Homo sapiens: one gene and its partners. The protein of the gene in region 1 purifies or fractionates together with the protein of each later gene. This does not show direct contact. Each region holds a gene or a part of one and is shown on either strand. Other genes may lie near its edges.

Region 1 (7,534 bases):
GATTATTACCTCAACTTTCAATACATACTCATCTCATAGAGGATCTGGACAGAGCCTCATAGGAGAGCTACAGCATGAAAATGAGAATGTAATGCATGTGATGGCCCTAGAGTAACATGTCAAAAGGCAGACAAGGAGTTCCATCCCACTCTATGGATGGGAAGATGGTGTTAAAGACTTGGGCACAGACTTAGGTGTGGAGGCCTGGTGTTCCAGCTAGAACACTGGGGATACCACACTCTGTAACACTTCGAAACCTCAAAGGTCAGGGGTTCAATATGAGTGCAGACTATTGGAAGAGATGCTCCTTTGGGATGGTAGGCATAACAGATGGTAGAGATGCACATCTGTTGGGAGTAACATCTATCACACTCCTGAGAGCCTACAACTGGGTATTATTTGTAACCTAGATTCCTTCCCCTGAAATATCTCTTGGGAACCACAATTTTTCTTATGACCAGATCACAGCAGACAAAGAGAAGAAAAGGAGAATCACTGGGCAAACAGCCATGACTTAGGAACTTAGAATTTATTATGGAAAATACTCCTGGCATTTCTCTGAACTGGTGCTTGGTGGATGGCTGCCAGTAGCAAGCAGACAAGATGGGGTGCTCTGTCCCTCTGTAATACAGCTATTGTTTACCCACAAATGATCCTTCCTTCCTTCCTTCTTATTTCCTGAGTGAAGAAGGTGGTCCATAAGGTCTCTGCCCCACCACCATAGTATGTAGACTTTTCAGTGATTAGGGCAACAGTTTAAACCATAATCTACACTAATGCAGGCCTAGTTTGGGGAAAGAGAAGTTGCCAGCATGTAAGAAAAGAAATGTGCACAAAATACAAGTATTTTTTTTTGCAACAAAAGAAACTATTTATTTGGAATATGCATTACCAGTACAAATTAGGAGACTGTAAAACCTACACCGTGTTAGTATCATTAGAGAACACAAAAGTTCAGTTGGAATCAAAAGGGACAGAAGCCTGTGCTCTCACAGAAGCAGAAAAGCTTAAACTTTCAAAACCAAAACAGAGCAGAGCTTTGCAGGTTTATATTCTGAATAATAAGAAAAGGGGAGGGGTAGGGGGAGAATAAAACCAACAACCAAAGGAAAGCATTTCAAATTGAAAATGCCAAAGGAAAGAAGTAATAAGAGAGAAAAGGAGAAAAACATTGAATGTTTTATTTATTTTAACAAAAGAAAAAAAAGTTTACAAAAAATAAAAGATTCCAGGAAGCTTTGAGCTAGGGATTGAAACCATAAAGGTGATGTGAAAAGCTCATCATTATTTTGTTGTGACTTCAAGAGTACAAGTGTTCAGGTAGAAATATTTCCTAAAGCATTGCTCCACAATTCTGCATTCTTTCTTTACTTTTCTTGCTTAAGTTCTGACCACTTTCTGAACATAATTTGTTGAATGATGGTATTTAAAATGAATTTTTTTCCAGATAATATGGCTTTCTTTTTTCCTCTAATAAAAACATTCCAAATCAAGCCAGTTTTGCAATTTGCTTTAAGCAGCTGCCTAAGTCAGAGGTTACTAAGAGGTGTACTCTGTGAAGTAAACGTAACCTCTTAGCATTAAAACTACAGCATTGAGCCTGGCCCAATATCTCATTAACTCTTCATCCAAAACCAGGACTCAGCTGGCAGACTGGCCCCAAGGACTTCTTCCTGCATGTAGTTTACTTAACCAATGGTGCCCATCATACCAGCATCTCCTGCGGGACTCTCCTGGAAGAAAAGGCCTCTTTGGTTGGAAGAGGCCTCATGGAATGTAGTTATTAATTAGGGAGAAATAAAACAAAGTACTTGGCTGTGATAATCAGAATCAAAAACAGCAAAAACCTTTCCTGATAGCATAAAAAGTTCCCTTGGACTAAACGTTTTTGAATTTTTAAAAGGCTAAAAGGAGAAGTATGTCCCTGATTTTATTTTTCTCAGGGACTGCATGAGTGTCACACTCTCTGGAAATGCAGGTGAGCAACGAGACATCAACATGGGCTTGATCTTCGCTTTTGGCATTAACTGAATTCTGAAGCAAAGTAGAAGAACAAGCCTACTTGTTCTTACTCCTCTGCCCAAGTCATCTTTTCACATCACCTTGTATACATATTGAAGAAAAACAGCAAGATCATAATCCTGACAATTAAAAAAAGCCCCCCAATAAACAAACCAAAAATAACACAAAACAAAACATTTTTTTTTTTGTATTTTTAAGAGCAAGAATCAAGAAAAGAAAAGAATTTATTTCTGGGTCTCAAAGTTAATAAACATAATAATGTGTTAGGTTGTACCTATTATGCTCACTATTCCAACCTTTTTTTTTTTTTTTTTAGTTTACAAAATGAATTACTGTCACTTTTAAACATTGTGAAACAAGAAATGGATGTGCACAACTCGACACTTTTCTAGCATTCTTGAACTAATTCACAAATGCAAGAAAATAAAAGAAAAATGAGGGAAATGATGAATGTAGGTAGTCTGGTGTTAAAAACTAATGCAGGAATGATGCGCATTGTCACAGAAAGAAGAGGGGAAATTCCCCATCCTGTTTTGCGTGCTATGAGGGTCATTTTTAAAATTTTTATTATAAACACTATTAAATTCAGACCGCTTTTTTGGTTTTTTTTTTCTTTATCTGAATATACAAGAACATTCATTATCAAATGTTCATCATCAATACTACAAAGAACGAGACACAAGTCGCAAGAAACAATGGAAAATGTTAATAAAGCTGAAAGAATCGTTGAGTATTTTTTTGTTTCTTTTAAAGTTTTTTTTAAATTTGAGTTTCTGTAGTTTCATCTTTTTTGGTATCGAAGTCAGGTTTTTCTGGGCAGAAAAACAAAGAGCAGGAAAGAGAGAGACAGAGAGAAAGATGTGTGAGAAAAGACAACCAGCAAATAAAGAATCACCACCATAGCAAAATAAAACATAAATTGAAAGAAGGTGCCACTTGGCAAATGTACTGCACGGGCGTCAATTCCATGCCAGAGGGAGGATGGATTAGGGATGAAAAGGAGGAGATAAGGAAGAGTTACAAGGTGGGCAAACCCAGGGTCTAGTATCGTTTCTCAGGGGAAATTCGCTGTCGGGGAAAATGGAGCACTCCCACATCTATTAGAAAATGAAGAAATCCTGGGGTGCATCTTGCTCTCTGTAGGACTGGCCTCATGTGAATTCCCAGGAAGCTGTGTTTCCAGAGGCATGCTCTTTCCAAACCCATCCTGCTGCTCTCAGTGTTCTCCTGCTTCGCCTAATGTGGACAGATCTCACGGATGCCACGTTGGAAGTCGGAAGTGATAGTGGGCTTGCCGGGGGTGCCGGGGGAGGTGCTGGGTATAGAGAAGACTAAGTGAAATGCTGGTTGGGGAAAATGCTGTGAAAGGTGATCATCAGTGAAAACTACGGCCCGGAGAGAAACTGCCTGTGCAAATGTAGCCCTGTTCTGATCTTTTGCATTAACTTAACATGGCAATTATTCAGGCCACATCTGGAGTCACTCTTCTTGTTTCCAAGAGAACCCTTTTGTCTCTCTTTCGTACTTTGCCCTAAGTCAAGCAAATGTGATTCAACCATGTTCTTGCGTGGGTAGTTTCATTATATTCCTGCCACTAAGATGGAGTTCTCCACTGATTCTAATCACTATGAAGTTGTCACAAAAATGCTCCTTCTAGGCATCTGTTCTGATTAGGGCTGAAGTTAGTAGACACAACCTTTCTAGTGCCTTTTAGTCATCAAGGCATAATTTCATTTTGCTAAATACTTAGTTTTTGCATTTCCTTCAAATACACATTCCCTTGAGTTTCTTCAGTGGCATCCCCTGCTCCCCTGAGCACACACAGTGTTTTCTATTTATGACTGTAGTGCCAAGCAGAATTTCCATGTTCTTGCTAGCTGCCCATTCTCACCCCTCAGGGTCTCATACTTCTCCCTGGAAGCCTCCCAAGCAGTCAATGTGACAGGGACCAAGTATGTACAAGGCAACATATTGGGTTCAAGTGCAAACTAAGGGAACCAGGGCCTGTTTTTCTAGTTTGGAAGTTTTTCTTTATCCTAAGAAAAGAGACAGACCAAAACCAAGAAGATCAACAATAACTCTTCTCTTTGTCATCACGGTGATGACATCAAGGTACTGATATTAACCAGAAGTTACAACAAGAAAACCATTTATTGTCCCTAGATGGCATGAACCCGTTTATTTCAGGGACATTACTTCCCCTGACTTCGCATTTACAGATTGGATATGAACAAAATCAACTTCTCAGTCTCTCACAAGACTCTTAGTAAGCCAGGCATAACAGTTCCCATCTCACAGATGAAGAAAATGAGGCACCAAAATATTTGACCACCTCCCACTTAATCAAGTGATAGAGCTGCCATCTTTATAACTGGTAGGGTTGGCTATGAAGATGGTGAGCTCAGGTGACTTTTGAGAATAGCTTTCATATACATGCTATTTTCTCATGTATTTTTAGTACACGCTGTGTTCCCAGGGAATAAAAATCACTGTGATGATTTCAATGAAAACATTACCTTCCCTTTCCCCATGATTCTCAGGTCCTCAAATGAAGCTAGCAAAAGTTCACATGAGCCACGTTCTTATACAACTCTTTCCTCCAGAGCAATAGGTCAGGACCAAGAACATAGTGTGGTATAACATTTTGGAAAATTAATACAGTGTGCCTAATATAAAACAAAAAATTAAACAGAATCAAGTCCATTAAAGACATTGTAAGTACTGTATGGGGCTCCCTGAGTGCTCCAGAGGTGGTGGGAACAAGAGTAGTTTACACTGGAAACCTGGTCTTCCTCATGATCAGGTCCTGTGTATGCCATTCTGGTAAGTGCACGCTAGTGGGCCTGCAGGTCCTGGAAGCCCCAGACACATACTGCTTCTCTGTGTCAGTGACCTTCACTTAGAGTCACTAATTCCCTCTCTCGGGCTCAAAAGGCATAGTGCTACAGTTATTAATGTAGGTAATTGTATATGGCATCTCGGGAAAGTGAAGATGTGAGATGGTACATGTGCCTACATGTGCATGAACGTGTGTGTCTATGAAGGCATAGTTGAGGTTGAAGGGTTTCACGATAAGAACTTTCTATTCCTTGCTGATGCATTCATCACCATGCCTAACTCAGGCCCAGTTTTGCAATAGGTTCTAAATATTGCTTTCTCAGTGCTGAATGGTCTCCAAAGACTGTGCCTCTGAAACTGAGAGCTATTGCTAGCAGGGTAAGAAAGACTGTAGGAATTCTCCACCTGCTGTTCCCGTGTCCTTCCCTGCTGCCTGACTTCCTGCCCGGGAACCAACCTAGTGGAGATGAAACTGAAAAATGTGGCACCTTTAGAATCCCAGCTATGACAGTCCCCAGTGAATAGCTGGGGCTAGGAAGGAAGAGGAGGAAAGTGTTCCAATCAGTACTGTCCCCAGGGAGGAAGAGCAAGAGGAAGCAGGGAGGCCTGGAATGAATAGGGCAATGTGGAGTATTCCTGCTAAGAGGTAGTGAGAGTAATAAGAGAAACAGAGAAGGATTGCCTGTTAACATAGGGAGTGAGGGATTCGAGTGAGGTAAATTTGGCTCCTCAAACCACCAGCATGAAAACGTACAAACACTTTTATTATTTTCTTTGTAATTTTTTTCCTCTTTAAATTCCTCTAATTGTTGAAAATATCCTTCAGTGATATGAGAGAGGGCGGGGACCCCGGGAGTCTAGGACAGAGGCACAGGGGCAGGGAAGATGACGAAAACCAGGCTGACAGCTGGAGGCAGGGAAGGGTGGCTTCTACCCAGAAAAAAAAGGGAAGAGAGTATAAAGAAGTGTCCAGATTGGCTGAAATAGCATCCCAAAGAAGAGAAGAGAAGGAGACTCTTATTGTGTTTGCTGATTGCTTCGACCTCCAGTCTGACCGCTTCAGCGTTGGGAGAGAAACCCTCCCTCCTGCCCCTGCCCCAACTGGGGCACAGGGTCAGCCGGGATGCGATTGCTGGGAGATCAGTTGGAGGTATCAGAGTGAACACTGCCAGGGCCTTCTGTAGGGGAGGTCACTGATGAAGGGGTAGTAGCATCCTGCCAACCTCCATTAGCCTAGAAGGGAAAAAGGGAGAGAAGTCAGTCCTCTGAGATTGGGTGGCTGTTTTCAGCAGACAATGACAATGAGGCATCTTGTGTAAAGGACCTAGCATAGTGCCTGGCACATGGAGACACTCATCAAATGGGCAACTATTACTGTGGGTGATAATATTGCCCCCACCCTCAAATAAGTTTGGGTCCTCCCAGTGAGCCTCTGGATATGATGTTAATACCTCCCACTAGTATGATGTGTTTATACTTCCCAAAGACTCTGTAATTAAGTCCCAGCCAGCAGTGAAATGACAGCTGTCCTGCAGGTCAAGGGACTCAAGTTTTGGTTCTGGCTCTGGCAACAACTAGCTAATGTCGATGGTAAAGCACCTTCACCTATTTGACCTTAGTCTTCTTTTTTGAAAAATAAGAAGGTTGGCTCAAATGCTTTCTAGGGTTCTTTCTGACTCTGGATGTCCCATGTATTTATGGGATTCCAGGTATTTGTTCTGCACAAGGTTCTATACTAGATGCTCATGGGTATATAATGATGAGTGAGATGTAGTTCATGTGTTCAAGGAGGGAGATAAGCCCACGAATGAACTTATAAATCAAGGCAGAACCTAATAAATGGTAGAGTCCCATTGCTATGAAGTTTCAAATGAAAACAATATCACATTTTGTTGCAACATCAGGAAATACTTCATAGAGGGAGCACTCTTTGAGGTGAGTTTTGAAAAGTACAGAGGCTAATTCAGGTGACTATAACAGATACAACAATGGTGCCAAGGCCATAAGGACTAGTCTGTGTGAATATATCCAGAGAGGTGGTGAGACGGGAAGGTATAGGCTTGATCAATATTTGGAGATCATTTTACAAGACTCTAGATCCAGGAGCATCCCAACAATAAAACTGTTAAAACTGTTCTAAAAAAATCTGTTTAGTAACCACCCCTTTCAAAAAAATCCCAGCACTAAAATAGTTGAAGAATGCTTTGCTATAGTGGTTAATTCATGATGCATAATTCATGATTGCTTATATGTTTTAAAGCATTGAAATATAAGTGTGCTAAAATGCCTTTCCCCCCTTCGATTACTGTGTTCCTTTGTAGTTCACGTTGAACAGATCAGGTCTGAGACATCCCTGGTAAAATGTTTTCTATTGTACTATCCTCTCATTCTCTGAAAAATTTGGGGGAGATGGGGCAGGTATTATTGTTGCTGCTTGGGAGGGAGCACCACTTCAACTCTTGCATACTCCATGGCACCTGGAGTATGCCGTTCCCATTTTATTCATCAGAGAGCAGAGGTGCAAGAGAAAAGCAGGTGTCCCGGTTCACGACTGAGAACACAGGCCTTGAGATCTTTGAATTCGGGCTCCATTTTCTCTGCGCTTTTCAACCACTTGGCTTTCTTTATCATTGGCTCACCCAAATGATGCTCCAATTTTCCCAGGAAAGCCAGG
Region 2 (7,886 bases), on another chromosome or scaffold:
GAACGGGGCCCCGTGGCTCAGCATGGAGAAGCCTCTGAGGCTGACCTCCTCCTACTGAAAGCAACGGTGGCGCCTGATTCCAGCTCGACCGGGGCTGCCCACACCATGCTATCGATGAAGTCAAGGAGGCAAAGGGTGAGCCGTGACCTCTCTGCCTCTGCCCTCCATCTACTACCCGGAAGGCCTGCAACTGCTCACATCTGAAGACCTGCACGCCCATCGTCACCAAGCCCCCGCCTCCGCTGCTGTCCCCGCCAGCCCCTGCACGTGCTTGCTACCACCATCATGTCACCAGCCCTCCCACCAGCTCCCACCAGCCTGCTCCAACCACTCTCCTCACTGGGTCCAGGGTGACTTGGCCCACAGGAGCATGGTCACCCCAACTAATGCCCTTCAGGCTTTCCCAGGCTGCTCAGAAGACGCCGGCCCCTGATGTGCCCCTCCACAGCTCCTCCAGCCTCACCGCGCCAAGCTCCCTCCTGCGTGTGCAGGGCCTTTGCACATGCCCATCTGCTCTCACTCCCTGGAAAACCCTGTCCCAGGCTCACCCCTCCCCTTGGTCTTTATCTAGATCATGACTTTCATTCCCTCACACCATTAGACAATCACCCCTTCCTCCAGCCTCCCACACCACTGTCCTGGCACCCAGGGCCTCTGCTGGGCAGCCCCAACCCCCTCAGTCCAAGGCAGGGAGGCAGACGCAGCAGGGCTCTTGGGGAAAATGAGCGTGGATGCCATCTCTGCAGGCTCCCGAGGGAAGGACCGGGTCTCCTAGCAGCCTGAGGTTTCCCTTCCTCCTCCCCTGCAAGGCGGCTTAGAGGCTGGTAGGGCCAAGCACACTGACCTGGTTCCTAGGAGTCTGCACGCTCAGCCCTGCTCTGGGCTCTTCAGTGTGACCATCGCCCTCTGACTGCTTCCTAAGTCCCCCAGGTCTCATTTATGCCATAAACACTCTGAAAATTCCTTTACAGTCCCCTCTGAAGCAGGGTCCCCATGTCCATGATCTGTAACCATGCTTTGTAAATCACGTGATGGAATGGGGTTCTGACTTTGGAATTCATCAAGGACCTGCATGTGCAGAGATCTGCATATGAACCTTGGTGCCCCTCCCTTTGTCAGCCCCAGCCCCAGGGAGGGATCCAGGAACTCAGGGTCGCATTGGTGGATTTCCAGGGCTACTTCATCATCTGCACTTTGCAGACACCACAGACCCACAGAACCTATACGGGGTCTTGGGCTTGAGGATCGCCGAGGACTAGAGTGAGGAAGCCAGAGTGGTTGTGGGTGGGCCTGGGGCGAGGGTGGCCCACGGGAAGGGAGGTGGGAGGGAAGGGGGTCCCCACAGTCCCACAGGCTCTGGGAGAGGCCTTGGGCCAGCAGCCCGGCTCCTGTGGATTCCGTTTCTGTGTTGTAAAAGAAGGAGCGACCGCTCACTGTGCAGTGACAGGAGCAAGAAACCAAATCAGGTGAGGCAACACCCCCTGCCCAGGTGGGCACCAGGCTGATAACGCAGCCCGTGCCATGATCTGGGCACTGCCTGGGGAGTAGTGTGCCCTCCTAAGCCACCTCCTCAGAGTGTCCAAGGACCTTCCCGACAGCTGGCTATCACCACGCCCGGCACCCTGCCAAGCTTCCCACCTCAGGATCCTGCAAGCAGGCACTCCCTACACACAGCTACTAACAGGCCCAGCTCCTGGCAACCTGAGGGCCCCGCTGGCCTTGGTTCTATGACTCAGGCCTTGTGAGCCTGCAGTGAGGACATGCAGCCGAAAGCCTCGAACCCAATGACTCAGAGCCCTGGCCCCCTGCGACCAGCCCAGGCAAATGCAACCTCTTGTGCCTCAGTTTCCCCACTGGTAAAATCAGAATAATGCCGCAGCAGAGTCAGGTTCAGGAGTGAGGTCAGATGATGCATTACTCTTTCTGTGTTGCTAACACCGGTGCCTGGCACAGTCGGCAAGAAAGAAATGAAGGCTGCTGCCACCCACTACCTAAGCCAAAGTCCATCACTGCCCCACGGGAGGGACGGAGACTTCGCTAGACAATGGCAGAGTCGGCCAGGAGCGGTGGCTTACGCATGTAATCCCAGCACTTTGGGAGGCTGAGGTGGGTGGATCACGAGGTCAGGAGTTCAAGACCAGCCTGGCCAACATGGTGAAAACCCATCTCTACTAAAAATATAAAAATTAGCTGGGTGTGGTGGTGTGCGCCTGTAGTCCCAGCCACTCAGGAGGCTGAGGCAGAAGAATCACTTGAACCCAGGAGGCTGAGGTTACAGTGAGCTGAGATCACACCACTGCACTCCAGCCTGTGTAACACAGCGAGACTCTGTCTCCAAACAAACAAACAGATAGACAATGGCAGAGTTGCTGGTTCTCCTAGGGCAGGCCACAGGCTGGGCATCACAGAGACATGAACCCTCGCCTCAACACAGCCCTGAAAGGGCAATGCCACTACCCTGCCTAACCACCAGGGAAACAGAGGCACAGACCCGGCGGTCGGGAGAGCCAGGACCCCACCCCCACCGGCCGGCAGGGCTAGGGAAGGCTTTACCTCGTCGTAGACGCTCTCGATCTCGTTGAGCAAGCTCTTGGAGCGCAGGGCCTTGGTGTCGTTCTGCTTGAAGTTCACAGCCTGGTGGTCAAGGGACTTGAGGTACGCCTTCTCATACTGCTCCCGCCAGATCTTGTTGAAGCCCTGCTGGGCCTCCCGCCACTCCTCTTCCTTGGCCTTCAGTCTGCGGGGGGAAGAGAGGTCAGCACCAGGGACAAGCCAGGGCATCCTCCCTGAAGCATCCCAGGGCTGGCCTGTCTTCCTCTGGGACTTGACTGGGGGTCCAGGACCCAGGCCCAGCCAGCTCCCAGCCTAGTCTGTGCAGTGGGCTCTGTGCACGTCAGAGGGAGGGCGTGATGGCCTTACAGAGCCAATGTGGCCGGCTTCCCGGTTCCTCCACCTCCTCCCTGGCACCCAGCACTCTCCGCATGGCTGTTGGCTCAACCACTCAGGTCCCCTGCTCAGCTGTGAGTCCCAAGAGAGGGACTGGGTCTGCCTCACTCAGCTGCATAATCCCAGGGCCAAGCACTGCACCTGCCTGAAAGTGACCACTTGATAAATGCCTGTTAACTAGCGCCGGACGGCATCCGAAATGCAGCATTAAATAAAATGCAAGCCACAGTGTAGTGGTCGCATCTGACTCTTAAAGCAGTTATTTAGATGTCTAGATGTATTATGTGCAAGGTGGAAAGTCCTAGAAGGTCACAGTGCTCTCCTCTCAGGAGTGGGAGACTGGGAAATACAGGAAGGCACCCTTAGGCCTCAGAGACCACCCCTGGAGATGACACCTGTTGACAAACAGCACTAATGAGCTCTCCAAGGGCTCCCTGCAGTGGGGAGGGGAGGGGAGGGGAGGGGAGGGAAGGGGGAAGGGGAAGGGGAAGGGAAGTCGGGACGCCACAGGGCACCTTTTCAGGACAACGGGGACAGCGGTGACAGGGTTCTTCTTGAGGCTCTCGATGATCTCCGGGGCCTTGTCGCCATAGATGCGATAAATGGCACGGCGCTGGATCACCTCCGACGTGCCTCCCAGGGAGTCGTCCAGCCGGAACTTCTCCTGGTCTTCCGGCGCCATCCGAGACAGCTTCTTCTGCACACTTTCCAACACACGGATTGTGGCCAGGTTCGTCTCCAGGACAACGTCTAACTATGGAAAGGAAGGCAGGACGGGGTCAGCCACTGGGGAACTCAAGAGGCCTCAGAGAGGAGCCTGGGACCTCAGAGACCAGAGGATTTTTTTGGGGGGGGGGTGTGTGTATTTAAGAGATAGGGTCTTGCTCTGTCACCCAGACTTGAGTGCTGTGGCACAATCAAAGCTCACTGCAGCCTCAACCTCCTGGGCTCAAACAATCCTCCCACCTTAGCCTCCCACGTAGCTAGGAATATAGGTGTGCACCACCATGCCTGGCTAATTAAAAAAATTTATGGCCGGGCACGGTGGCTCACGCCTGTAATCCTGGCACTTTGGGAGGCTGAGATGGGCGGATCACAAGGTCACGAGTTCGAGACCAGCCCGACCAACATAGTGAAACCCCGTCTCTACTAAAAATAAAAAAATTAGCCAGGAATGGTGGTGTGCCTGTAATCCCAGCTATTCAGGAGGCTAAGGCAGGAGAATCGCTTGAACCCAGGAGGTGGAGGTTGCAGTGAGCCAAGATCATGCCACTGGACTCCAGCCTGGGCGACAGAGTGAAACTCTGTCTCAAAAAAAAAAAAAAATTTTTTTTTTGTATAGATGGGCTCTTGCTTTGTTGCCCAGGTTGGTCTTGAACTCCTGGCCTCAAGCAGTCCTCCCACCTCAGCCTCCCAAAGTGCAGGGATTACAGGCGTGAGCCATCGTGCCCAGCCAATAAAACTTTTAATTACAAAAATTAATGTAGCCTGGGCAATACAGACCCTGTCTCTAAAAAAAGGAAAAAAAAATTAGCCAGGTGTGGTGGCTCATTCCTTTAATCTCAGCACTTTGGAAGGCCAAGGTGGGAGGATCGCTTGAGGCCAGGAGTGTGAGACCAGCCTCGGGAACACAGTGAGACTTCATGTCTACAAAAAAAGTAAAAAAAACAACTTGGGCATGGTAGTATGGACTTGTGGTTCCAGTTACTCAGGAGGCTGAGGTGGGAGGATCATTTGAGCCTGGGAGGTCAAGGCTGCAGCGATCCATGATTACGCCACTGCACTTCCAGCCTGGGAAACAGAGCAAGCAAAATAAATAAATAAATAAAATAAAAATAAATTTAATTTTTACATTAAAGAAACTTTTTAGGAGACAGGGTCTCATTCTGTTGTCCAGGGTGGAGTGCAGTGGTGTGATCTCGGCTCACTGCAGCCTCGGCCTCTCTGGCTCAAGCAATTCTACTGCTTCTGCCTCTCGAGTAGCTGGGATTACAGGCGCCCGCCACCACGCCCGGCTAATTTTTGTATTTTTGGTAGAGATGGGGTTTCGCCATGTTGCCCAGGCTGGTCTCAAACTCCTGAGCTTAAATGATCCACCTGTCTTGGCCTCCCAAAGTGTTGGGATTACAGGTGTCTGCCACTACGCCCAGCCCAAACAAAATTTTTAAACAGAAAGAAAAGTGCCATCTGGTAGCCAGCCCAAAGGCCAGCAAGACCCGGCAGGAAGCTTCCAGGAGCTGTTGGAATGTGCTGCAATTCCTGCTCCTCCAAACGAGACTGGGGCAGTGGAGGAGGATCAGGATGCATGTCCCATGGAGAAGGGGAACAGGCACATGCCGGGGGACCCGGCCACAGCAGCACACACACCTCGAAGCGCTCGTCCTCACAGCGGTGAAGCTGCTCCTCGTACGGTGTCTTCTTGGAGCTGACGAACGTGGAGTCCTCAGACCAGGAAGGGAAGGAGACCCAGGTGTCGTTCAGTACCTGCACCAAGAGGAAATGCCGTGAATGACGCTGCATGCCCCAGGAGCCAAGATTTACTGTTAGCCAGTGTAGAAAGTACCAAGATACATAATACCATCCTGATACATAATACCAACTGCCTTATACAAATGGGAAGGTGCATAAAGTTTTTAAGGAAAAACATGACTTTGGTCAAGTGGACACTCCCTTGGTATCCTGGGAGATTGGTTCCAGAACCACCCCTGAAGACCCAAATCCACAGATACTCAAGTCCCTGATGTCCAATGGAATCCTATTTGCATATATCCTATGCAAAATCATCTCTAGAATACTTATACCTAATGCAATGTAAATGCTGTGTAGATCATTGTTACACTGCATTCTTAAAATGTGGATTACGCTTTATTGCTGTATTGTCATTTTTTGGTTTCTCTTTCCCCACGTATTTTCAATCCATGGTTAGTTGAAACCACAGATGAGGAACTTGCAGATCCGGAGGGCCGATTTCATTTCAGACATTGGTAAATTCTCTCTGCAAAGGGTCAGACAGCAACCATCTCAGATTTTGCAGGCCATCCCAGATGAATACTCAACTCTGCCTTTGTGGTGAGAAAAGCAGCCACAGGCAATATGTAAAGGAATGGTTGTGTCTGTGTGACAGTAAAACTTTATTTACAAACACGGGCAGCGGGCCAGGGCCCGTGGGCCAGAGTTTGCTGACCCCTGCACTATATCCTGGAATCCAGCAGGTATTCTTGAACTTGGACATGCAGTAATCGTCTGTCCACGAACCCTGGAGAAGTGTCCAATGGTCAAGCTAAACAGAAACACACTGAGGTCAGTGAGCCCGGGACAGAGCAGAATCATGGCAGCAATAAACCTAAGTCAAATAACAGATGAATAAGCCGAACTCCACGTTATCCCTGGCACTCTGTGTTTTGCCAAAACTACCAGCAGGGTACAACACTGTTGTCTCTGCTCAGGTGGTTTTGCCGGGCCACATCCCAGCACCACCCATAACCCAACATTCAGGAGGGCTGAGCACACAGCATTTCATTCATAACGGGGGTATCGGGTGTTTGCTGGGGAGGGGTGGGGGATGCACCATGTCAACGAACATTTGAGCCCCAGGGAGCGCTACCTCCTTGCAGATGGCTGTCCTCCCACTGCACTTGGGCTGCTGGTAGGTTTTGGGGAGTGCCCGGTAGCTGGATCCTATGCGCTTGCAGGATGCATAATCAATTTCCCGGCTTATCCCGTCCCCGGATCTGTCGCTCATGGGTGGCGCGAAGGACAGCTCTTTTACCCCCAGGAAGGACTTGAACTGTGCAAAGAGTTCTGGAAATTTCCTTCAAAGATAAAGACACATGGTAACTGGTCATCCCCAGGGCCTTCTGAGAGGGATCTGGAGATTTTAGAATGGCTTCATGTGGACATTACAAGTTAAACAGAGTCAGAATTCAACATCATGGATGCGAATGAGAGGCGGAAGAATCCAATACACAGGAAGTCACTGCAAGTCCCGGGGTGTGTGAATGAATGGGCCTCCCACCCATCTGTCACACACCAGGTCCCTTCCTGTGCCTATTAATCCCATACTCACAGTAAGGCTTTGAAATACACCAGAAAAGATGACTTAAACTGGCAGAAGCTGGAACCCCTGATGTTCCCTGACTGGAAGAGGCCAGGCTTCAGGCCAGGGAGTGGCAAGCCACAGCCAGTCTGCACACTGCCTGTGTTTTGTTTGGTTTGGTATTTTCTTTTTAGAGATAGTGTCTTACTCTGTTGCCCAGGCTCAAGGGCAGTGGCATGATCTCAGCTTACTGCAACCTCAAACTCGTGGGCTCAAGAGATCCTCCCACCGCAGCCTCCTCAGTAGCTGGGACCACAGGCATGTGCCACCACACCCGGCTAAATTTTTTTTTTTTTTTTTTTTTGAGACAGAGTTTCACTCTTGTCGCCCAGGCTGGGGTGCAATGGCACAATCTCGGCTCACTTCAACCTCCACCTCCCGGGTTCAAGCAATTCTCCTGTCTCAGCTTTCTGAGTAGCTGGGACTACAGGCATGCACCACCATGCCCGGCTAATTTTTGTATGTTTAGTAGAGACGGGGTTTCCCCATGTTGGCCAGGCTGGTCTCAAACTCCTGACCTCCGGTGATTCACCCGCCTCGGCCTCCCAAAGTGCTGGGATTACAAGTGTGAGCCACCATGCAGGGCCAATTTAAAAATTTTTTTGTAGAGATGGGGTCTTGCTATGTTGCCCAAGCTGGTCTTGAACTCCTGGCCTCAAGTGATCCTTTCACCTCAACCTCCCAAAGTACTGGGGTGACAGGCGTGAGCCACCATGCCTAGCCATCCCATTGTAAATAAAGTTTCACTGGCCTGCAGTCACATCCACTTGTGTACGCACTGCCTGTGGCTGCCTGCACAAGAGGGGTTTGAGTCATTTCCACAAAGCCCATCTGGCCCCTCAGA
Region 3 (7,886 bases), on another chromosome or scaffold:
ACTTACTAAAGAAAAAACAGGGAAATCGCACCAGGCCAGTCAGTATATTTCAGATCAGGAAGTTTAAGGCAGATAGGTACCCCTCCCAGTTTCTTAGTTATTTGTGAAGGATCGGTTTTTGTCAGTGTGTTCTTTTTCTGGATGAGATAGATATTTTGTATGGAGTATCTTAAATGGATTACTCTTATGTTGTAGAATATGCAGTTAAATTATTGCCTGAAACATATTTCAGAAGTCTGAGAGATCGCAGACGCGGAGTTTAAGGCTCACCTGAAAGTGATGATGAGCCTTCGGCGACTGAAGCCTACTTCCTGACTGTCATGAGGAAGTGGACTAAGAAAGGCAACTGGTTTTGTGTTTATTTCTTGACGTATAGTTTAGATAAGGCAAATTTTCCAAAGCTAACATTTTGGCCTTAGGCAGGCTTTGGAAATATGAAACACCTTCAGGGTGATTCCAAACATAAAGCCATTTCTTTCTCTGTTTTCTATTGCTTGTACAAATTTGGGATGTGGGTGGGAGAAGAAGGGAAGTTGAAAACTAGCATTAAGGGAATTGAACAGCCAAGTGCTGTCATAGTCTTCTGGAAGTAGCTATTACGCTATTAATTATAGCTTAGCAGTACATCAGTCAATCAGTCCATGGCACCAGCCGTTCAGTAGCTGTTGTACTCTGGTCCTGATGGCTCAGGGAATGCCACTTTGTATATTTCTTTATTTTCTTTAAAGTTGAGATTTGTGTAAGCAATCTTCTCCATTTTTAGACAAATGATCTGCTGGCTTTGAACAGTCTTTTATGTTTGTTTTGTGTTAAAATAGTATACCACCTCAAGACTTTCTTACCAAATGTAACGTTTATGCCAAAACGTGAGTAAAAACATTGGCTTTCAAATAACACTTCATTTTGACTGAGGATACATTGTTGGATTTTTTTCCCCTTTTTTGAAGATGTTCTCCTTTTTCTAAATCTGTATCTGTTCTTAAAGGCCCTGGGTGACTCCCAAACGCTAACCTTTGTTGATTACTTGAAAAGATAATCAGTCTTTCTACATTCACTTTTAAAATAGGCAGGTCACCTTTAGGCCATTTACATATTTCATTTGTGTGTTGCAATGAGAGCCAGTCCTTCAATTTGCTTGTTAGAATTGTAATAATTCAGAGGAGTTCCAAACATTTAAAATTTATTTTTCTCCTTGAAAATAAACTGCTTTGTTTTGCTAGAGTCAGTGTTCCATTTTTTCTCTTTATTGACTTATTAAATAGTACCAACCGAACAGTTGTTGAGACTGTTTACATTTCAAGTTTTTGGAATTAGTAATGTTTGCTTTAATCTTTTAAATTAAATCTTCTGTAAGGTTTCACTAAGATCGCCATTGATTTTTTTGGATTTTTCCCACCAAACTACAGTGTTAAAATGAAACAGTTCTTGTGCAATGTGGAAAACTAGCAAAGATTTTTTAAAAGCCAGATTTTCCCACCTATTTTTTTTAAAACTTTTTGTTCAGTGGCTTCATTTATTGTTGGATATCCTTAAGTGTTTATCTCTAAGATAAACAGTTAACTCCCATGCCAGAAAATTATGCCTCTTTATTGATTTACAGTCCCCTTTGGCCACATTCCATGCTCAATCTGCTGGTAATCAGTAGAATATTCTGGCTTTCTCATATACCCTGGAGGATTGCGTGAAGGATCCCTTTTTCTTTCTGCTGCTTCTCCCCTCCCCACTGTGTTCAGGTAGGAATTTTTAAGGCATGGCAGCCACAGTAGAAAGAGGGAATAACATGTAGCAGTGTGATGAACGGCACACGCTCTTCTCAAGAGGGGACAGTCCTGATTGTGTGTTGGAAGAGAACAAGTATTCTCTTTTCTTTACTGTGTCCTTGTGTTTGTTTATGGAAAGTATTTGAATAGCCTGGCATTTTCTCGGGGATGGTTTTGTTTCGCTTTTTTGCCAAATAGTATACCCTGGGTTCCACGTGTAGGTGAACTGCCAGTTCTCTGGCTGCCTAGATACTTTATGTCTTACTGTGGGACCCATTGGTCTGCACTTACGTGGTTTGTCTTCTGGTCTTGTCTTAATTTGACTTCCTAGGGTCATTGATGAAACAATAGGCTATTTTATAGGAATGTCAAGGAATTGGTAGCTTATGATACCTTGCAGTAGAAAAGTGTGTGTTTTTGTTTTTTTTTTAATTTCTCTGAAGCAAACGGCCAGTGTTGGTTCTTCAGAATGAAGCACTTTATCCACAGCGGCGGTCCTACACTAGTGAGGATGAGGCCTGGAAATCCTTCCTGGAAAACCCTCTCACTGCAGCGACCAAAGCGATGATGAGCATCAATGGAGATGAAGACAGCGCCGCTGCGCTGGGCCTGCTCTATGACTACTACAAGGTGGGTTTGCCTGCCTTTAAAACCCTTAACAGCAGTCTCCAATGCACTTGATTCAGCAGCATAGAAACAGACATTTGCTGGTAGAATGCCATGCAAGTTGCTTCTGTAGTGACTATAAATAGTTTAATGAGTACTTTGACTTACTGTGATTCGAAGCTAAAAATCTGTGATTGTAGAATCAAAGGGTTGTTTTTAAAACATGCAAAGCGGTCAGCTGCTGTGGCTCTATCCAGAAGGTGAAGCTACCGTAAAAGAAGATGCTAGATGTGCCTTCTTGGGTTTGAGCATCTCACTGAAGGTGGTTCTTAGTGCCATGGAAAGTGGGCAGGGGTCATTTACCTTTTCACCTTTGTTCCTGGGTAGTCAGGATGATTTCCTTTCCCTAAATGATACTACAGAGCCTTTGAAATCATATTCTGTAGTCTAGGACTGTCCAGTTCCAAGATCAGGATATGTTTTGTTGCCTGTTTCTAGAGATTTGGAGTACTCTTAATTAAATATAATCTATACTCTGCATGGAATTTTACATGATTTTCATTATCTGGAAGTGACACTACTGATTTGTCTCATCATCATTGTCCTGATAACACTAGCTGCCACTATTATGCTAGACATGTTACCAGCCTGCGTGCGACTTCTCACTCAGAGGTCACAGCTAGGATGTGTGCATCTGGGGCCCTAGTCTGGTCCATGGCCGAGGCCACTGTCTTTCTAATGCAGCGTGCATACCGCTCTCCTTCTGGATTCACCTCTCCATTCTTCCTTCTGACCAGAAACACACATTTGGGGGTGGCTACGTCTTTAGGGTGCTACTTAAAACAGCAGACTGAGTTGAAGCACAGCTTTGCCACAGGGCCTTTGTCTCATTGTCACTCTGTGTGACTAACCTGTGTAATCATTGTGTTGTCATCAGTACCTGTATAAAAACAGGATCTGTTTGGGATTACCAGAAGCTTCTTAATGACAGTGTCTTCTCATGAATGTAGTGTATATTTTTTACAGTTTATTTTTGCTATCTTTTTGTTTTAAAAACTTTCAAACCTGCATAAAACTTAAAATAAGAGGATAATTAATTCCTGAATACCTTTACCCAGAATCGCCAGTTGCTAGCCATTGGCTACATTCTGGCACTGTATTCTTTCCTTAATACAAGAAATACAGAGGTGAAAGAAGCCTAGGAGATAGTTTTATTATTAAAATTAGGGTGATTAGCCTGAGCAACATGATGAGGCCCTGTCTCTACCAAAAATAAATAAATAAAAAAATACAGAAATTAGCCGGTTAGTACACATGCCTATAGTCTCAGCTACTTAGGAGGCTGAGGTGGGAGGATCACTTAAGCCTGGGAGTTGGAGGCTGCAGTGAGCTGAGATCATGCCATATCACTACACTCCAGCCTGGGTGACAGAGACAGACCCTATCTCAAAAAAAAAAAATGGGGTGATTATTTCCTAGTATGAGGCCATGCGTCTAACTAAGTTGGGGCTGAGGGATTGAGGTAAGCTCTTTTTTCTTTGAATATGAGCAGAAACTTGTGTAATAACTAATGATGCTAGAAGAAACTCTTACCAGGGAAACATAGCCATGAAGAGTTCCTTTGAAGTGGAAATTATTATATATCTGTTCTTATAGCTTGTTTTATTGACTTACTATAAATTAAGTTCCTAAAACATTAATTATGAAGTTACATATTTTTAACTGAAACTTTTGAGAATGGGAGAAACTCGTTGGTACAAGTTTTGTGCCAGAAAGGCCCGTGTGATAACACTAGGTGTACTACTCCTGCGTCTCAGAAGCATGTAAATCCTCATGTCTGTCCATGAAGGGTGACAATTTTAGTGGTACTTACTTGTCAGACTTCTTGTGATAGGTGTAAATTTATTTTCTTCTTCTTCTTCTTCTTTTTTTTTTTTTTAATAGAAGCAGAGTCTCGCTCTTGCCCACGCTGAAGTGTGGTGGTGCAGTCATAGCTCACTGCAACCTCAACCTCCTGGGGTTGACTGATTCTCCTGCCTCAGCTTCCTGAGTAACTAGGATTATAGGTCATGCCTGGCTAATTTTAAAATTTTTTGTAGAGAGGAGTCTCACTATGTTGCCCAGGCTGGTCTCAAATTCCTGGCCTCAGGTAATCTTCCTGCCTTAGCCTCCCAAAGTATTAGGATTACGGACGTGAGCCACTGTGCCTGGCCTATTTTCTTTTTCAAATAAACTGAATTATTTGTTTCAGGTCTTTGGCTGTATAAGCATCAGTCATTATTACATAATAATTTTGATAAAGCTTGAAAAGCATATTGTTAATACATGAAGCAGTATTTTTTTTTTTTTTGATACAGAGTCTCGCTCTGTCGCCCAGGCTGGAGTGCAGTGGCGCAGTCTCAACTTACTGCAGCCTCTGCCTCCTGGGTTCAAGCAATTCTCCTGCCTCAGCCTCCCGAGTAGCTAGGACTGCAGGCGTGTGCCACCATGCCCAGCTAATTTTTTGTGTTTTTAGTAGAGACGGGGTTTTAACATGTTGGCCAGGATGGTCTCGATCTCTTGACCTTGTGATCCACCCGCCTCGGCCTCCCAAAGTGCTGGGATTACAGGCGTGAGCCACCGCGCCTGGCCAGCAGTGTTTTGTCTTTAATGGTGAAAACAAGGATGCAGGAATAGAATTTTCACGCTGAAAGCCATTTTTAAGCACCTTAGCCATTTTGGAGTGCGCAATGGGGTTAAATCTCAGTTGAGTTATTTCTACAGGACACTCACTAACATTTGCCTACTTTTCACTTCCCTTGCAAAGAAAAGAACCAAAAAAGGAATAGAACACTGAGTTAGACTTGTCCTTTGGGTGATGGACGTATGAATCCCAGCGTATCTAAAGACAGTGATCATATGAAGCCCTCATTTGGATCTTAGAAGAAATGAAGGGTTAACATGGCTGTTCCTTCTGCTTTTGCATTTGATCTGAATGGAGGGTGGTAGGAAAGAGCACTGAGAAAGTTGGAAGAGCTCCGTTGTGTTTTCAGTAGCTTCTTCTCTAATGTTGTGTAGATAAACGAGTAAAACCAGGGCAGAGGTATTTCTTTTTTTCTTTTTTTTTTTTTTTTTGAGTCAGGAAGGGTCTTGCTCTATCGCCCAGGCCAGAGTGCAGTGGCGCAATCTCTGCTCACTGTAACCTCTGCCTCCGGGCTGAAGCGATCTTCTCACCGCAGTCTCTCTTGTGTAGCTGAGACTACAGGCACATGCTACCACGCCTGGCTAATTTTAAAATTTTTTTTGTAGAAATGAGTTTCACTGTGTTGCCCAGGCTGGTCTTGAACTCCTGGGCTCAAACAATCCTCCCACCTTGGCCTCCCAAAGTGGCTGGGATTACAGACATGAGCCACCAGCTGTGGCCAGCGGAGGTATTTTTTTTTTAAGAGATGAGACCCAAACTCCATGACAAAATAAATTTATCATGCCCTGAGTTTATTTGGCAACTCAATAACAGTTGCTTTTTACATATCAACCAGATGGGTGACTAGATTTTAAGCTCGTTGAGGGCAGATATTATAATTTGTGTGTCCCCATAGCCTGGTGTTTGCTAGGCAACCAGTAGATAAATGAATGATTGAATTTACTGAAAAATAAAAGGCTGTATCTTTGGGTAAACTGCACTTCACTGGATAAGAGCTAAATTCTTTTCATGTGTGCTAATATCAGGTTCCAAGAGAGAGAAGGTCATCAACAGCAAAGCCAGAGGTGGAGCACCCTGAGCCAGATCACAGCAAAAGGTAACATTCAGTGCCTAACAGCATAAAGAGTGCAGGGGGAAATGCCACGTTTCTGTAACAGCAAAATGGGAGTTTGTTTAAATGAACAACCACTAGTGAAAGAGATAGGTAAGTTGGACTCTTACTATCTAAATTCAGATTTCATCACTGATTTGCCTCTGTTGCTCTGAAATTTCCTTTTTTCTTTGGGCGTAGTAGTTGCCTTTTCTAGGATGAAAGCACTAACATTCTCCTCCTCCAAAGGGATAGTTTTAGTAATAACTTCAGTATTTGCTTATTTGTTTTTGAGGTTTTCTTTAGAAGGATGTGTGGCAGTGGTCTATTAAAAAAATTAAGCACCAGTGACTCTTGAACAACTGCCTGAGTAAAATTGAATAAAGCAAGTTAAATTGTATTCAAATTCCTGTTGAAATTATTTGTGAAATATTTTAGATTAAAACTTTCAGAAAATTTAATTAACGTTTGGCTAGCCATGAAAAACTTTAAAAAGACACCTTTTAAATTGTCTTGTGTTTTATTATCAATCAAGGAATGAAACATATTTAAAGGAAGAATGATCATCACCCAGTATCCCATTATCGTGATGATTGCTTTATTCATTGTTTTGATGTGTATGCAAATTTTATGTAGCGTAGTTGTGTTCACAGATAGGATTTGGTAGTGTACTTTCTTCTACTTAGTTTGTTTCATAAACATTTTCTCTGTATTTTAATCTTCATAATTATCCTTTGGAAGAGGACTTGTGGCTTTTATCTTTTACTTTTCATTATGGGCATTTTCAAACATAATAAAAATAGAAAAACAGTATAAGCCCACATGTATCCATGACCAGCCTCAACAGTTATCAACACAATTCCTCTTGTTTGATTTGTTCTTCCCTCTTCTTCAACTTTGAGATTAATTCATGTTTTTATTTTATTTATTTTTGCTGGAACATTCTGAAGCAAACTGTAAATATCCTTACAATTGCTGCTATATCTAGTTTTCACTATTAAGAAGTCTTAAGGAACAACTTTCTAGACTTTTTCCGTTTTAGGATAAATTCCTGGGAGTGAATTTATGGTTCAGGGTTCAAACAGTTTTATTGATCTTGAAATGTACAGAATTCTCAATTTGCCTGTTTCTTGAAGCTTCAGCCTATATGATTTCTGGGGGCTTTGAAAATTCATTCATTTTACCCACTGGAAATCATCTTGTATTGCTCAAATTATTTATCAAACCAAAATTTAATTTTATAAAAAGCAGATGTGTCTACTGATGCAATGTAACAATAGGTTTTCTTGGGTGAAAGAGAAAGCCAGGCCCGGCACAGTGGCTCATGCCTGTAATCGCAGCGCTTTGGGAGGCTGAGGCAGGTGGATCACCTGAGGTCAGGAGTTCGAGACCAGCCTGGCCAACATGGTAAAACCCAGTCTCTACTAAAAATACAAAAATTAGCCAAGTGTGGTGGCGTGCGCCTGTAATCCCAGCTACTCGGGAGGCTGAGGTGGGAGAATCGCTTGAACCCGGGAGGCGGAGGTTGCAGTGAGCCTAGATCACGCCATTGCACACCAGCCTGGGCCATAAGGGCAAGACTCTGTCTCAAAAAAATAAAAAATTAAAAAAAAAAAAAGGAGAAAGCCAAATGGCATAGGTGGTAGGAAAAGTGGTGACCAAGTAATAATAGCTCATACTTCTTGAAGACTGTGTGTCAGGCATTATTATACACCTTTTAGTGTATCATCTCATCTCAACCTGATGA
Region 4 (7,886 bases), on another chromosome or scaffold:
GGCCAATTCCTAGCATTTCTACCAGCATTACTAACATGTAGGAACTTGATATTACTTTCACTTGACAGTTAAATTCCTTGAATCCTTCATTTGAGCTTTGAAGGTGCTTGATTTTCCCCTCATTATGTCTCTTAAAGTCACACATACCTAGATCCATTAGTGCTTCCAGTTGGAATTTATTATCAGCACTATAAGAATCTCTTATATTTATGTAGTCCTTTTACGTTATAAAACACTTTTTATGTATTATTGTACTAGACCCTCAATGAGTGGACGTTATATCCCTGTTTTGTTTACTCTTGGGTCTTATAGACTGGGGGTTTTATTTCTGTCCCATTAATGTCACTACTGACAGAGGCCACTGAACTCTGTTGTGATGGACTTTCACCATACATAATCATTAATAGTATTGATTTGCCTGTAATTCAGGTTGCTTCATTCCAGCCTCGCAGTCACCTCTGTGCCCTGCTGGTTGTCTTCCCAGCGCTGCTGTAGTTGCCTTCCATGGATCTATAGGAGAGCAAGTCCTCCAGGTACTGCCCTGTGACGATGTTGTTGAACTCTGTAGCACGTGTGTCACTGTGGCTGGTTCTGCTCACTTCCTCTTTTGCTGCCACTTTTGAATTTAACTCTTTGTTTGTGGTTTGGACACTCACTGGATTTGGAAACCAGGGGTTGTGGGTTCTCTCCTAGATTTCCGTCTGTGTACCAGGCTTGTGCTTAGCACTTTTCCCATAATTCTTTCACATGACCTGCTTAGAAACCCTTAAAGGTAAGTATCACTCTTCCCATTTTACAGATGGATACACTGAGGCTCAGTACTTAAGTGACTTCTGTATTGTCACACAGAGTCAGGGGCAGGAGGCTGCTCTTGGGTTAGATGTGCTGAGGCTCATAACCTCAGCCTGGAACTGGGTCAGGACTACAAAGGTAAACAGAAGCAGAGTCCTTTCTGTGTGTCCCCGCTCCCTGTACAAGCCAAGGCCTCACAGCACATAGCAGCCACAGCCACCTGAGGATTCCTGCCATCTAGACGAGGCAGTTACAGCCAAGAACAAGTCCACTGAGGCTAAGCTGTGCTCCTCTGGAGGGCTGTGTTTAGAGTCCAGCCTTCTAGGGGAAGCAAATTAAACCCAAACTATAGAACAGCCCAGGGAAATACTCACAAAGGGAAATGCTGACAGTCAGACTCCTGAAGCTTCCTGATGCTTCTCGAGTTTTGGTAAAGAACCTCAGTGCTGTTTGTTTGTTTGTTTTTTAATGTTTTCTGGTTTTTTGTTTGTTTTGAGACAGTCTCTTATTCTGTTGCCCAGTCTGGAGTGTAGTAGTACAATCATGGCTCACTGTAGCCTCCACCTCCCAGATTCAAGTAATCCTTCTGCCACAGCCTCCTCAGTAGCTGAGACTACAGATGCATGCTACTACACTGGGGTATTTTAAAAAATTTTTAAATTTTTTTAGTTGAGACAGGGTCTCACTATGTTGCTGAGGCTGGTTTCAAACTCCTCGGTTCAAGTGATCCTCCTGCCTCAGCCACCCAAAGTGTTGGATTTACAGGGTGAGCCATGTCACATTGCCCTCTCTTAGTTCTTGAAACCTGAAACCTTGAGGAGCAAACAAAAGGGGTCTCTTGGCCAGGTGCAGTGGCTCACGCCTGTAATCCCAGCACTTTGGGAGGCCGAGGCAGGTGGATCACGAGGTCGGGAGATCAAGACCATCCTGGCTAACACGGTGAAACCCCGTCTCTACTAAAAATACAAAAAATTAGCCAGGTGTGGTGGTGGGTGCCTGTAGTCCCAGCTACTCGGGAGGCTGAGGCAGGAGAATGGTGTGAACCTGGGAGGCGGAGGTTGCAGTGAGCTGAGATCACGCCACTGCACTCCAGCCTGGGCGACAGAGTAAGACTCCATCTCAAAAAAAAAAAAACCAAAAAAAAAAAACGGGCGGTCTCTTGACTCTGTCAGGACCCCCATGACTGCTCGTGTGTCTTGTGCTTTGCACAGTTGAGTGAAGGAGCACTGTGTCCACAGTAGACATTGTAGATTTATATGTGTATCATTATGAGTTTCCCAGCAGGTAGTGAGAGATTTTTTATTACAGTTGGTGCATTACAGCGATTTTCCAACAGATAGAAGGAAAGGGTGTTGAGGCTCTCCCAACAGCAAGGTATAGGCTAGTGGCTGTCCTGCTCTTCACTCTACCAAGCTAATCTTTCTGGGTTTCCATATCCTTATCTGTACAATGAGGAAGTTGGACTAGATCTATAAGGTCCTCTTCTCGTTGACATTGTGTGAACCTTGTAGGAGCTGGTGGTGTCTGTCGATTGACTGAGTGCTGGAGCTGGCAGCCCTGTGCAGGCTGCCACCTTTGCCCCTTTACTGTGCTTGCTCCTGACTCTATGTCGCGTCTCCAAGGAGAAGAAGTCCTCACCAGTGAACGGAGACCTCTCTGAACTAAGGATACCATGGCCACGTCAGCCCCACTACGGAGCCTGGAAGAGGAGGTGACCTGCTCCATCTGTCTTGATTACCTGCGGGACCCTGTGACCATTGACTGTGGCCACGTCTTCTGCCGCAGCTGCACCACAGACGTCCGCCCCATCTCAGGGAGCCGCCCCGTCTGCCCACTCTGCAAGAAGCCTTTTAAGAAGGAGAACATCCGACCCGTGTGGCAACTGGCCAGCCTGGTGGAGAACATTGAGCGGCTGAAGGTGGACAAGGGCAGGCAGCCGGGAGAGGTGACCCGGGAGCAGCAGGATGCAAAGTTGTGCGAGCGACACCGAGAGAAGCTGCACTACTACTGTGAGGACGACGGGAAGCTGCTGTGCGTGATGTGCCGGGAGTCCCGGGAGCACAGGCCCCACACGGCCGTCCTCATGGAGAAGGCCGCCCAGCCCCACAGGGTAAGCCCTCTTCACCCCCGAGGGTGCCTTGCCACCTTCTCTGGATGCTCCACCTTGCAGTCCTCAGAGGACTCAGCCTGAGTCTCCCTTCCTGCCCCAGCCCAGAGCATCCACCTGTTGCCACTGCTTGTTTTTCCACAGGAAAAAATCCTGAACCACCTGAGTACCCTAAGGAGGGACAGAGACAAAATTCAGGGCTTCCAGGCAAAGGGAGAAGCTGATATCCTGGCCGCGCTGGTAAGTGAGGCTGTTTCAGGAAGCCCTGAGGCGGTGCGCCCGTGTAGGGCAGGGTGAGCCTGGGCAAGTAGGCGGCAGCTGGGAGGTGTTTCTAGGCGCTGCTCACAGGGAGGATGGGTGTCAGCCTGGCAGTAGCAGACCTGGGTTTTAGCCCAAGTGCTGTCTTTCTGAGCCGTGTAGTCTTGGGCCTGTTTCTTGTCTGAGAGACAAGTGGGCTGCCTGGATGTCAGCTAGAGTCCCTTCCGTTTTCTGTGACTGTCACCTTGAAGGCAGGGCCCATGTCCAGCTGCTGGTTCTCTTCTGCCAGGGGACTGAAGAAGGTGTGGCTTCATTCTTCCTTTCAAAGAGAGAGAGAGAGACAAGGTTGCCTGAGAGTGGAGAGGGTTTAGAAGGAGGGAGCTGGCTCCAGGGTAAGAACTGAGAGGGAAGGGCTAGAAAACAGCTAAGGCAGGTCTGCCAATTCTGATGGCACTGTATGTAGTGAGGTCCAGGCCCAGGATCATGGTTGCCAGTACAGTGGGACCTCCTCCATATCTGTGGGTTCCGTAGCGGCGAATTTACCCAACCATGGATCAGAAATATTCAGAAAAAAGAAAAAGCGTCTCTACTGAACATGTACAGATTTTTTTTCTTGTCATTATTCTCTAAACAATTCAGTGTAACAGCTATTTATATAGCATTTACATTATATTAGGCATTATAAGTAATCTAGTGATAATTTAAAGTATATAGTAGATTTTATGTAACTATTATTCCATTTTACATAAGAACTTGAGCATCCTTGGATTTTGGTATCCTTGGGGAGGGAGATCCTGGAACCCATCACCCACTGATACCAAGGGACAACTGTAGTTAGAAAACAGGCAGCACATTATGTACTTGATTAGAGATGGGGTTGGGGGGAACTGATCAAATGGTTCTGATTTTCTGGGGAACTGTGTATGTTGAGGAAGTGGGCAGTGGAGGAGTAGTGGGGTCAGGGCCAGTGGTGAGTCATTAGGCCTAGGGAGAGGGAAACAGTAAGCTAGAGACAGCCAAGTCCAAGGACCCCTCCAGGCCCTCAGTGTGCATGGCTGCCCCCAGCTCAGCACCAGTCAACAGGGCCACTGAGGACTCCCCCAACCCCAGCTGGGGAGGAGATTTGGAGGCAGGAAAGGACATAGTCCCTAAGCACAGACGTCACACAATTTTGCTGAGGAAACAGGATGCAGTCTTACATGGCAGGGGTGGGGTACATATAGATATTTTAGACTGAACAGTGGGGTGCTGAAGAGAGGGCTGGTCAGGCTTAGATGACATTAATCAAGCAAAACTTCCTGGAAGAGGTGACAGATTTTGTCCAGGAGGGAAAAGTGCGTCGGCTCATGAGTGAGACCCACAGAGTTTCTCTAGGGGCCCCAGAGCGTACTGGTTTAGCTAGAACAGATTGTGGCTGACCAGTCAGGTGGAGACAGGGTTTTGACCATATAGTGGTGGGGTGAACTGAACTAATTCATTACTGGAGTCTTCTTTGAGAAGCGGAGTGTGGACCAGGAACCCTCTGTAGCTCCTCCCACTCCAGATCCTGTAGAATTCCTGAACGGGGGTAGCGAGGTGAACGAGCCAGCCTTGCACACCTCCAGCACTGGGCCCTCCACCCTGAGCAGAGGTGTCAGCCCTTCTCCCCTTCCTGCCCCCTGCAGAAGAAGCTCCAGGACCAGAGGCAGTACATTGTGGCTGAGTTTGAGCAGGGTCATCAGTTCCTGAGGGAGCGGGAGGAACACCTGCTGGAACAGCTGGCGAAGCTGGAGCAGGAGCTCACGGAGGGCAGGGAGAAGTTCAAGAGCCGGGGCGTCGGGGAGCTTGCCCGGCTGGCCCTGGTCATCTCCGAACTGGAGGGCAAGGCGCAGCAGCCAGCTGCAGAGCTCATGCAGGTGAGAGGCCGTCCCTGGGCAGGGCGCCAGGGACCAGGACGGTGGGTCCCAGCCCTGCCATTCACTTGCAGGACCTTAGAAGACTTGGGGGCTCAGTTTTGTCATCTGAAACATGGAGATGATAATCCTTACTGCTGCCAATTAGTCTGTAGATTGCATGAGCATAAAATGAAATAACTGGCATGCTGTCACTTCAAAAAATAAACTTTTTACACAAAACTGTTCAAAAAACTAAATGGTATAGTAGAAAATGGAAGGGAAGATTATTAATATCATTTACCATCCTCCATCCTCATCACTGCCATCACAAGCCCTCTTAACAAGTCATTGGCAGACACTTAGCAGCTGGTGGAAGCTTTTTATGGTGTTGTGGTTGGGGGTGGCTGAGGGAGGGCTGACCAGCAGCTCCTCTCAAAGACCCAGAGGATCTGGAAGAGATAGGGTAACTGGGGAAGGGAGACAGAGATGGCCAGGTTTTCTTTGGCCCATGGGATTACCACACAGAGAACAAGATGGAAAGCAGACAAGGGGGCCTCGGGGCACCTCCTAGAGGAGGGGGCTTTGATAGTGAGAAAGGGAGGGTTTGGGGCTGAAGAACTGGCTGTGAAGCTGAAATGGCACCACATCTCCTCCCCCCCGGGAGCCTCTGGGGATCACACTTACCCTGAAGAGGGCCCAGTCCCCTTTGGAGGGGTAGAGGGCTCAACCTTCCTGCTCTCATAGGCTGGGAGGGGAGGGGCTCTCTGATGGTATTCCCCCACTTGCACTGTTTAGGGTGGCTGGGTCTGTCTGTCAGCAGCAGAGCCACCCAGGATCTCTAGGAAGGTGGAGTCCCAGGCTAATGGCAGGGCAATAGCTAGGAGGGAGAGATAGCAAGGCAGACTCTGCAGTATGTGCACTGGGACAGACTGCAGAAGGAGGCGGCCACCTGCTCCTCATTGTTGTGAATTCAGATGTACAGAATGAGGACTGGCAGGGATTTTAGACCTTCCAGTTCAGCCCCTACTGATGAAGTCACTGAGGTCCAGAGAGTGGGAGGAGTTTGTCCCAGGCCATGGGGTGGGTGTCAGGTCACAGCTTGAGCCCAGATGTCCTGACTCCTGGGCTCTGAGCTCTTGTTCTTATTTTGTCCAGAATGTCTCTCTGGCCCCCTCTTTTCCTCCAGATGTCATTCTGTTCTCTCAGATTTCTCTCGTCATACTCTTTGACTGGGTCATTTTCTGCATCTCCTTTTGCCCGTTTCTCTTCTCCTTCCTCTCCTCACGCCCCTGCCATGTGTGAATGCCTACTGTGTGGAACAGAGGCACACAGCTGAGGATGTGGTGGGGCTGAAATCCATTGTGTTTGCCCGGAGGGGTGCCTTTTCCTAATGCACCCAGAGAAGTGGCCCTCAGAGCAGAAGCCTGGCCCTCAATGACTCAGAGCACTCAGATTGCAGCTCTCCCTGGGGTGGGATAAGGTCAAGGGAAGGGAGAGAAAATGGTGTCAGCTTGAAACTAGTATAGGAAATGTTATTGGTACTGGTAGGTTTCTTTTTTTGTTTTGTGTTTTCTCTTTTAATTTTAGTGCTATATAATGTATATATTTATGGGATGTAGAGGTTTTTGTTTGTTTATTTTTGAGACAGAGTCTCGCTCTGTCTCCCAGGCTGGAGTGCAGTGGCGTGATCTCAGCTCACTGTAATCTCCGCCTCCTGGGTTGAAGCAATTCTCCTGCCTCTGCAACCTCTGTCTCCTGGGTTCAAGCGATTCTCCTGCCTCAGCCTCCCAAATAGCTGGGATTACAGGCGCACATCACCACACCTGGCTATTTTCTGTATTTTTGGTAGAGTCAGGGTTTCACCATGTTGGCCAGGCTGGTCTTGAACTCCTGACCTCAGGTGATCGCCTGCCTCAGCCTCCCACAGTGCTGGGATTACAGGCGTGAGCCACTGTGCCTGGCCTAGAGTGATACTTTGATACAAGTATATAATATATAATAATCAACTCAGAGTAATTAGTATATCTGTCACCTCAAACACTTATCATTTCTTTGTGTTGGAACATTCAAAATCCTCTCTTCTAGCTTTTTGAAAATGTATAGTAAATTATAGTTAATTATATTCTCCCTGCAATGCTGCACAACACTAGAATTTATTCTTCCCATGTAGCTATAACTTTGTATCTGTTAACCAACTTCTCCCCACCCTCCTCTCCCCAGCCCCCTTCCCAACCTCTAATCATTACTATTCTACTGTCTTACTTCCATGAACTCAAATTTATTATGGATGAATAGTACTCCATTGTGTATATATGCTACATTTTCTTTATCTATCTGTTGATGGATGCTTAGATTGAGTCCACATCTCAACTATTGTGAATAGTGCCACAATAAACATGAGTGTGCAGGTATCCCTTTGATATACTGATTTTCTTTTCTTTGGATAAATACCTAGTAATGAGATTGCTGGATCATATGGTAGTTCTATTTTTAGTTTTTTGAGAAACTCTCATACTGTTTTCCGTAACGGCTATACTTATATGTAGAAAAACCTAAAGGCCCCACCAAAAAACCCTTAGAACTAATAAACAAATTCAGTAAAGTTGCAGGATACAAAATCAACATAAAAAGTCTACTGCATTTTTAATACACCAATAACAAACTAGCTAAAAAAGACATCAAGAAAGCAACCCCATTTACAATAGCTACAAAAGTAAAATAAAATACCTGGGAATGAAGTTAACCAAGGAGGTGAAAGACCTCTTTAATGAAAACTACAAAACACTGATGAAAGAAATTGAAGAGGACACAAACAAATGGAAAAATATTCCATGCTTGTGGATTAGAATTAATAT

Evidence for each region.
Region 2: the proteins of PBX1 (region 1) and SIN3B purify together in Homo sapiens (affinity purification with western blotting, with the first as the bait; one study listed by BioGRID). This does not show direct contact.
Region 3: the proteins of PBX1 (region 1) and GRHL1 purify together in Homo sapiens (co-immunoprecipitation; one large-scale study listed by IntAct). This does not show direct contact.
Region 4: the proteins of PBX1 (region 1) and TRIM26 purify together in Homo sapiens (affinity purification with western blotting; one study listed by BioGRID). This does not show direct contact.

Annotation. Positions count from the first base shown.
Region 1 is NC_000001.11:164,845,143-164,852,676, reverse strand, and holds the end of PBX1 (pre-B-cell leukemia transcription factor 1), read right to left. Parts: intron 6,094-7,534; coding exon 6,001-6,093; 3' UTR 3,338-6,000; coding exon of another isoform or gene 3,275-3,337; 3' UTR 846-3,274; downstream 1-845. UniProt on the Homo sapiens protein: Transcription factor which binds the DNA sequence 5'-TGATTGAT-3' as part of a heterodimer with HOX proteins such as HOXA1, HOXA5, HOXB7 and HOXB8. Binds to the DNA sequence 5'-TGATTGAC-3' in complex with a nuclear factor which is not a class I HOX protein.
Region 2 is NC_000019.10:16,861,224-16,869,109, reverse strand, and holds part of SIN3B (paired amphipathic helix protein Sin3b), read right to left. Parts: intron 6,759-7,886; coding exon 6,551-6,758; intron 6,459-6,550; exon of another isoform or gene 6,227-6,458; coding exon of another isoform or gene 6,131-6,226; exon of another isoform or gene 5,467-6,130; coding exon of another isoform or gene 5,431-5,466; coding exon 5,314-5,430; intron 3,701-5,313; coding exon 3,462-3,700; intron 2,738-3,461; coding exon 2,554-2,737; intron 1-2,553.
Region 3 is NC_000002.12:9,952,712-9,960,597, forward strand, and holds part of GRHL1 (grainyhead-like protein 1 homolog), read left to right. Parts: intron 1-2,203; coding exon 2,204-2,390; intron 2,391-6,074; coding exon 6,075-6,145; intron 6,146-6,162; exon of another isoform or gene 6,163-6,253; intron 6,254-7,886. UniProt on the Homo sapiens protein: Transcription factor involved in epithelial development. Binds directly to the consensus DNA sequence 5'-AACCGGTT-3'.
Region 4 is NC_000006.12:30,193,682-30,201,567, reverse strand, and holds part of TRIM26 (tripartite motif-containing protein 26), read left to right. Parts: intron 1-429; 5' UTR 430-533; intron 534-2,303; 5' UTR 2,304-2,464; coding exon 2,465-2,902; intron 2,903-3,043; coding exon 3,044-3,139; intron 3,140-4,821; coding exon 4,822-5,052; intron 5,053-7,886.